Linked DNA regions of Homo sapiens: region 2 is linked to region 1. The links come from fine-mapping of genetic effects on plasma protein levels. A gene starts in region 1. The other region holds a variant in brackets. All regions are shown on one strand. Distances are from middle to middle.

Region 1 (4,407 bases):
AAAATGCCCAATTAACAAGAAGAGCTTCACCTCTTAAATAATCAGAAAAAGAAAAGCACATAATATTTACGTCAAAGTATCAAAAATGTAAAAGTTTTATAATAGGCATTAGCAAGGCAGACGGATACAGGCACACATCTAACTCTATGTAGGATTTAACTTGGAAGACAATTTGCATTTCAATCAATCAAAAACCATTTTTTTTTTTGAGATGATCTCCCTGTGTTGCCCAGACTGGCCTCAAGCTCCTGGGCTTGAGCAGTCCTACAGTCTGAGCCTCCAAAAGTACTGGCAAAACAGGCGTGATTGACCATGCCCAGCCTGTATATAAGGATATTCATTTGCAGCATTGTTTGCAACACAAAAATGTAAAACCAACCGGTGTTTAATATGCAAGATGTTAATTTATGGTACATTCTTGCTGTGGAAAGCTATGCATCTGTTAGAGGTGGGTCTATATGTTCTGATACAGGCAGAACTCTAAGAGCTATTAAGTGAAGAAAAGGCTGAAAATACATATGGCATAATTCCATATATGTTAAATTGTTCTATATTTTAAATGTTATACACGTTTCCATTTGTATTTACGTAATAATAATGATCCCTGAGCTGTACTGTTGTATACATGCTACAAGAAAGACCCATTTAATCCCCACAGCCTATGATGAATTATCCACATTCTACAGGTGACAAAATAGAGGCACAAAGTTAAGTAATTTTTGTCAGGTGAGATTTAAACCCAGGCATTCTGACTCCTGTATAACCATTAAGATATGCAGAGAAAGAAAACTGGAAAGATACATATTGCTGAAGATACTTATTATAGGAAGAGGAGGGGGGAGGGTGAAGGAATTTGCAAGTTTTTCATAGATGTTTCCATATTGTTTGAATCTCTTACAAAATATGTTCAGCATATTTTTAAAGAGAAAATTTGGGGCAAAATACTTATTTTTGTATTATGTAAACAAATTTTAAAATAATGTGTGGCTGGGTGCGCTGGCTCACACCTGTAATCCCAACACTTTAGGAGGCTGAGGCAAGAGGATTGCTTGAGCCCAGGAGTTCAAGACCAGCCTGGGTGACATGGCAAAACTCCATCTCTACTAAAAATACAAAAAATTAGCCAGTCGTGGTGGCGCACACCTATGGTCCCACCTACCCAGGATGCTGAGATGGGAGGATCACTTGAGCCCAGGAAGTCAAGGCTGCAGGAAGCTGTGATCGCACCACTGCACTCCCACCTGGGCAACAGAGTGAGACCCGGTCACCAAAAAACAAAAAAAACAAAAAAAATTGGTAATCGTTTTCTTCAGACATTTTCCGGGTTCCTCTGCTTAACTTGTATAGGAAGTCTGAGGTTTTTGTGTTGGTCTTTACCTTTTTTTTTTTTTTTTTTTTTTAAGATGGAGTCTCATTCTGTTGCCCAGGCTGGAGTGCAGTGGCATGATCTTGGCTCCTGCAACCTCCGCCTCCTGGGTTCAAGTGATTCTCCTGCCTCAGCCTCCTGAGTAGCCGGGACTACAGGCGCATGCCACGATGCCTGGCTAATTTTTTGTATTTTTAGTAGAGATGGGGTTTCACCATGTTAGCTAGGACGGTCTCGATCTCCTGACCTCGTGATCCGCCCACCTCGGCCTCCCAAAGTGCTGGAATTACAGGTGTGAGCCACCACGCCCGGCCCTGATCTTTACATTTTTAAATATTGCATTAGTGAACCGTGTACTGATTTTGTGATCATAGATAACCCAGTTAAATATTAAGTCTTAATTATCACTTAGTATTTTACAACCTCAGTTGCAGTTATAAAGTAAGGGTTCCACATACCTCCTAACAGTTCCTAGAAAATGGAGCTGTCTTGGCATGTAGTCTTTATTGCCCTGCTAAGTTTTTCATGCTGGGGGTCAGACTGGGAGTCTGATAGAAATTTCATTTCCACCGCTGGTCCTCTAACCAATGACTTGCTGCACAACCTGAGTGGTCTCCTGGGAGACCAGAGTTCTAACTTTGTAGCAGGGGACAAAGACATGTATGTTTGTCACCAGCCACTGCCCACTTTCCTGCCAGAATACTTCAGCAGTCTCCATGCCAGTCAGATCACCCATTATAAGGTATTTCTGTCATGGGCACAGCTCCTCCCAGCAGGAAGCACCCAGAATCCAGACGAGAAAACAGTGCAGTGCTACCGGCGACTCCTCAAGGCCCTCAAGACTGCACGGCTTCAGCCCATGGTCATCCTGCACCACCAGACCCTCCCTGCCAGCACCCTCCGGAGAACCGAAGCCTTTGCTGACCTCTTCGCCGACTATGCCACATTCGCCTTCCACTCCTTCGGGGACCTAGTTGGGATCTGGTTCACCTTCAGTGACTTGGAGGAAGTGATCAAGGAGCTTCCCCACCAGGAATCAAGAGCGTCACAACTCCAGACCCTCAGTGATGCCCACAGAAAAGCCTATGAGATTTACCACGAAAGCTATGCTTTTCAGGGTGAGTACACATTGACCTGATGGTGACCCCTCGGCAACCTTCATCACACACCTTCCCCATCCTCCTTAGAGCAGATTCGACATTTCTCCCAACTCACCTTCAGCAGTCCTCTTATGTCTGTGCATAGGGAGAAATTAATATTGTAAATTGATTTCCCACTGGCGATAGGAAGGGGTAGCTAACATGGCAAAACACTCAGCATTTCCTTTGAAAAATATCTTTGAGGCTCACGCCTGTAATCCTAGCACTTTGGGAGGCCGAGGTGGGCGGATCACTTGAAGTCAGGAGTTCGAGACCAGCCTGGCCAATATGGCAAAACCCCGTCTCTACTAAAAATACCAAAATTAGCCAGGGATGGTAGCAGGCGCCTGTGATCCCAGCTACTCGGGAGGCTTAGGCAGGAGAATTGCTTGAACCCAGGAGGCAGATGTTGCAGTGAGCCGAAATCATGCCACTGTACTACAGCCTGTGCGACAGAGCAAGACACAATCTCAAAAAAAAAAAATATGTATACATATATATATATATATATATATATATATATATATATATACACACATGTATTTTTGAAATACCCCTTGCCCAGTCTTGAGTTGTGCAAGCACTGATTGTCTTTCTGTCTTCCTTTCCGTCTATGTCCTGCTACCCTGACTTGGAGGCAAAGTTTCGTGGTTTCCTGTCCTTCCCCCTCGGCTCCCCTATACTTACATGTCTTAGTTGGAGCTTACATTGCAGCTTGGGAGACAGACAAATACAAGATGAAACAATTATATATCACAGGATGAGGAGAGCACAACTGTAACTGTTCACATTCCTGCCTCCTAGGGGACTTGAAGTTCTGATCTGTAGGCCTAGGCTGAACCAGGACATTTGTGATTATAATCAATTCCCTAAGTGTATGTTAGGTACACCAATTTTGAGAATCAATTTTGGATTATATATGCTTTCTTGTTTTTATTATATACCATATACATACATATTTGTATATATAGTACCTGATATATATATATATATATATATATATATATATATATATATATATATATACTTCTATGTTCTACTTTTTCATTTTAACATAGTTTATGACTATATTCTCATTTTATTAAAAACTTGAGCCAGGCATGGTGGCTCATGCCTATAATCCCAGCACGTTAGGAGGCCAAGGCAGGGGGATTGCTTGAGGCCAGGAGTTGGAGACCAGCCTGGGCAACATAGAGAGCCACTATCTCTAAAATAATATAATAATTTACTCCAGTGCTGGAATAGTATTGCTTAAAACAAAAGAAAAACTTGAAAGCATAACTTTCAATGGTCTTTTAGGTTCCCATTGTATAAATGGAGCATAAAGTTTAAGGTATTTTCCTTATTTTTGTATGTTTATTCTAATTTTCACTAGTTACAAGTTATGTTGCAATGACATTCCTATCTATAAACTATTTCCCACCTTCTGATAAATTCTTTCTGACAGAATCTTAGAATTGAAACTACTAGGTGAAAAGATCTGCATTCTTTAAGATTTTAAAGCATGGTACTAAATTATTTTCCAGAAAAGTTGTAATCATTTATACGAACAGTTATAAAATTACTCTCTGACCCCATTCTGTCAGTTTCAAATGCTATATTTTATTACTAATTTGACAGCTGAAAACAGCTTATTTTCATGTCTTGTTAATTTGCATGTATTTGATTATAGAGACGTTAAACATTTTTTTCTTCTTCTTTTTTTTTTTTTTTTTTTTTTTGAGATGGAGTCTCACTCTTTTGTCCAGGCTGGAGTGCAGTGGTGTGATCTCGGCTCACTGCAACCTCTGCCTCCCGAGTTCAAGCAATTCTCCTGCCTCAGCCTTCCCAGTAGCTGGGATTACAGGCACGCACCACCACATCTGGCTAATTTTTGTATTTTTAGTAGAGATGGGGTTTCAC
Region 2 (4,407 bases), 15 kb before region 1:
AATATCATTTACCTAATAAAATTTTTGTGAGGATTGCATAAGTTAATTCTTCTAAGACCTGCCTAAGAGAACAGTGTCTCATACACTGAGGGCCCTATAAATGTTAGTTCTGCTATTTTTGTTGTTTTGTTTTTGAGATAAGGCTTACTCTGTTGCCCAGGCTGGAGTGCAGTGGTGCAATCATGGCTTCACTGCCCCTTCAACCTCCTGGGCTCAAGTGATCCTCCTGCCTCAGCCACCTGAGTAGCTGGGATTACACATGTGCACCACCATGCCCAGCTAGTTTTTTTGTAGAGACAGGGAGGGTCTCAGTTTGTCGCCCTGACTGGTCTCAAACTCTTGACCTCAAGCTCTTCTCTCACATCAGTCTCCCAAAGTGTTGGGATTACAAGTGTGAGCCACTGCACTTTACCCTACTATTGTTTTTAAAGCCAATCAATTCCTTCAGGTATAGTTTTAGAGTGGGGCAATGGTATACATTTAAACGTTTGATTTTAAATCCACCTGTTCCCAAACTTTCATCAGAAACTTGGTACCCATTAATACTTCTTTAAGTGGTATATTAGAGCTTGTTTTTGGCGATAAATCATTTCTTATTGCCTGGGATAGTCTGGAGAAGATATTGCTGTGACTATCAAAGTGATTTTTTTGTTTTGAATTAGGTTACAGATTATGCCATTGCCAGGCGCATAGTAGATTTGCATTCAAGAATTGAGGAATCAATTGATCGTGTCTATTCCCTCGATGATATCAGAAGATATCTTCTCTTTGCAAGACAGTTTAAACCCAAGGTAACCTACCCTTTTGTACTGGGATAAGGTATAATGGGTATATTAAAGTGGAATTTAAGTAAGTGTGTTATATGGAAATTAACTGAACCTGTCATCTACCTTAGTTCCTAAATTTTACAACTTTTTTTTTTTTTCTGGAACAGCAATTTGTTTTTTCAGAGAGGGCTGAGAAAGGGAACTGTAAAAAAAATTCTGAATAATTCCATTATTTGTTTGGTGGTAATAAAAAGATTTGTATGGGAGAAGAGTTTTGGATAACTGGATAATCTAGAACATTCTTTTATTTCAAACATTACTAAGAACGTTAAAATTGTTTATGCGCCTAAATCAATAGTTGAATCTTTCTTTGAAGGAAACATTGGATTCATCTAGGCCATTATGATAAATATAAATTACTGTTTTACAGTGATTGATGCATTGTATTGGACTAACTCTGTTCTGGACCCAGGATTCTTACCTGGACATAAACCCCCAAATGCTTGGCATTTTCCCAAAATAGGGTATGAAAAGGAAAAAAAATACTCATTCTGGTTGAGATTTTCACACTGTTGGCTAACTTGACTTCTGGAAGGTGTTACTAGGTATTGATCATTTATCATCTTCACTTGATTATTCATGAGATTGCAGTTGGCTCTCACTGTCCCAAAGAAATTTAATCATTTAAAACTAAGGATTATGGGTGATTCTTGTGTAAAAAAGAGCATCTGTTCTCCATTACTGCATACTGATATACTGATCCCTCTGTAACCTTGGCATGCTTCCTTAATATGGTGAATTCCTTGCTCTGAAAAGCTGAGGATCCTTTAGATATAAAGTTTATTGAAACAGCTTTTTTTTCCCTGCAAAGAGTGTGAGTTAATTAATTGAGCCTCAAATACTGAGCATTAATTTATTTAATGAGCACTGACATCCTGAGGTGTAAAAGACATTACATCTTGTTCCATTGCTTCAGCTTGTTAAGCAGCTTTTAGAAATGGTCATTTGCTTAAATACTAAGCCTTTTTTCAGGTTCATAAAATTAGTAACATGGAATTCACAAGCCTCCTTAATATTAGTTTCTTTTGAAAGACATTACAATAGTAATTTATTGTCACTGGCTTCTCAAAGTTTCAACCCTCTCAGGTTCCCTAAATGTTTCCACCTGGAAGGCTCTTAAACTTAGGTTTACCGTAGCTCTCATCAAATAGAAATGTTTCTCTAACTTGAGTGATGATCTGAAACAGATTTCCAAAGAGTCAGAGGACTTCATTGTGGAGCAATATAAACATCTCCGCCAGAGAGATGGTTCTGGAGTGACCAAGTCTTCATGGAGGATTACAGTGCGACAGCTTGAGAGCATGATTCGTCTCTCTGAAGCTATGGCTCGGATGCACTGCTGTGATGAGGTATCAGAGTCACTTTGATATGATGAGAGCAGAGATAAACAGATTTGTTGCATGTTTTTAATCTTTGGTATGGGACATACTAGAATTCACTGCAAATACATTTTTATGTAACTGTTGAATGCTCATACGACCATGGAATTCTTCCCTTTAAAGAGCTTGGTAAGCATTTGAGTGTAGTTGTTAGACGGAGACGATCACGTCATAGTTTATAGAGTGCATAAAGACGTAAGTTACCATTTAATACCTTTCATTCAGGAAAAATGTACTTAGACCCTACAATGTACTAGTAGGCCTCTGCGCTGGCAATACAGATAAGATAATGTAG[C/T]CCCTGGCCTCAAAGGAACTCTCCTCCTTAGGTTGCATTTGTATAATGTTTGATTTTTAGATTGTTCTTTGAGCCCTGCATTCCACGAGGATAGGTCAGTGGGTATTAACGAGGTAAAAGGGGAGTAGTACGAAAGGGCATTCAAGCGTCCCATCTTCGCTTCAACCAAAGCAGCCCTGCGTTTTCCTAGTTTTATTAATAGGTTTGATGTAAGGTCGTCTTTGAAAAGGGGGTTTGGCTTTTTTTTACAGTGTGACTGAGGTATAATTTATAAAAAGGGAAATGTATGGCATGGTGAGTTTTTTCACATACATCCTTGTGAATACCCAGCTCAAGATCCAAAACATTTCCATAATTTCAGAAAGTTCCAAACCCCTGCCTCTTTTCAGTCTTAGCCCTCTTCCCCTGAAGTAACCACTGTTCCGACTTCAATCACTACTTTTATCCCACAGGTTAATTTTTTGGCTTTTTTCCACTAAATTTTCAAATTCTTTGATATGGTACTTTACTATTGACGAAGTACTTTCACACTAGGTTATTTAATATTCTTTGATTCACCCAATATTTAGGGAACACCTGTAGGGGACAAAAAATGAATGAGAGCCCCTGCCTTCCATTGCTGCTAATCTGGTGGGAACGAGACATGTATTTAATTAAGCATGTAAAAAATAGAGTGGGTGATGAAATAATCTATATACTAAATCCCCATGACACACAGTTTACCTATGTAACAAACCTGCATGTGTACCCCCGAACCTAAAATATAAGTTGGAAATTAAAAAAAAACGAGAGGGAGAATAGAGCATCACAACCAGAGTGCTGAGATGAATTACTTTATTACCAAAGAAGGAGGAGGACTCAGGGAGGTGCCGACGTTTAAACCCAGTCACTGAAGGGTGTGCAGAATTTGGATAGGCAAGATACCCTGGGACAAGGTCATTCTAAAACCATGCTAACATTTGTACTTTTTTTTTCATTGTGATAGTTCCTGAAATGAGTTGCATAAAACTGGTACATGTCTTAGGGCAGTCTCTAATTGATTTTTATTTTGTTCTATTTTTAAAAATTAGTCTTCAAATAGCAGATTCACATGATATTAAAATATATGCACATAAATTATATACACAAATATATTTTCTGAATGAAATTTAGTATCTGCATATATTTAAGAGCTATTTCTGTCTCATATGTTCATAATCTTCATCCATTAAAAAAACTTTTGTTAGGCCTTTCTCACTCTAAGATTATAAAAAATTCTCCCATTATTTACCTAGCTAGTTTTCTAGTTGTTCCAAAACCATTTATTGAACAATCCATCTTTTTGACACTGGTTTGGCATGCCTTAATTATATATTCTTGTGTGTGTTAGGATCTCCTTTTGGACTTTCCATTCTGTTCATTGAGTCTTATCAGCTCCTCTTACATTGGTACCATGATGTTTTAATCTATGGGGCTTTGTAGTTTAAATGTAGGGCTAGTTCCAGCGCATTGTTCTCTATCAGCTGTTAGGAACTTAGAAATCAGCTTGCTCTGTTTTAAAGAAAAACCTGGTATTTTTTTATCAGTATAACATTCTATTTATATTAACTTGAAGAATTGAAAACATCTATGATTTTTCCTATTCAGTAACGTATCACTTAGAATAGGTTAGGTTGTACTACTATAAAATCTCAGCTGCATAAAACAATTTTTTTTTGCTTGTGCTACACATCCATTAGGTCATCAAGGGACTCACCTTGTCAAGTTACTCAGAGATTCAGGCTGATATAAAGGTTTGATCTTGACATACGCTTTCATGATGACAGAAAGCAGGGAAGAGAAGGTGGTGAGCCATGTGCTTTCTCCCCCTTCTATCCAGAAATGACACATACTCACATTTCATTCGCCAGAGAAATTAACATGGCCC

What was found. A credible set is the group of variants that fine-mapping cannot tell apart. PIP is the chance, under the fine-mapping model, that this variant and not a neighbour inherited with it causes the effect. Sun 2018 read protein levels with aptamers (SomaScan).
Region 2: its variant is the best candidate, but not a certain one, in a credible set for the plasma level of the LCT protein (Sun 2018, PIP 0.51).

The regions. Positions count from the first base shown.
Region 1 is chr2:135,834,607-135,839,013 of GRCh38, reverse strand. LCT (lactase) reads left to right here and starts at 1,830. Exons shown (of 17, transcript NM_002299.4): 1 at 1,830-2,484. The coding sequence starts at 1,845.
Region 2 is chr2:135,849,171-135,853,577 of GRCh38, reverse strand. MCM6 (minichromosome maintenance complex component 6) reads left to right here. Exons shown (of 17, transcript NM_005915.6): 12 at 663-791; 13 at 2,015-2,176. Among named protein-coding and RNA genes, the nearest start is that of LCT, 14 kb to the right of the region's middle. The variant C/T (reference allele first, on the strand shown) is at 2,502.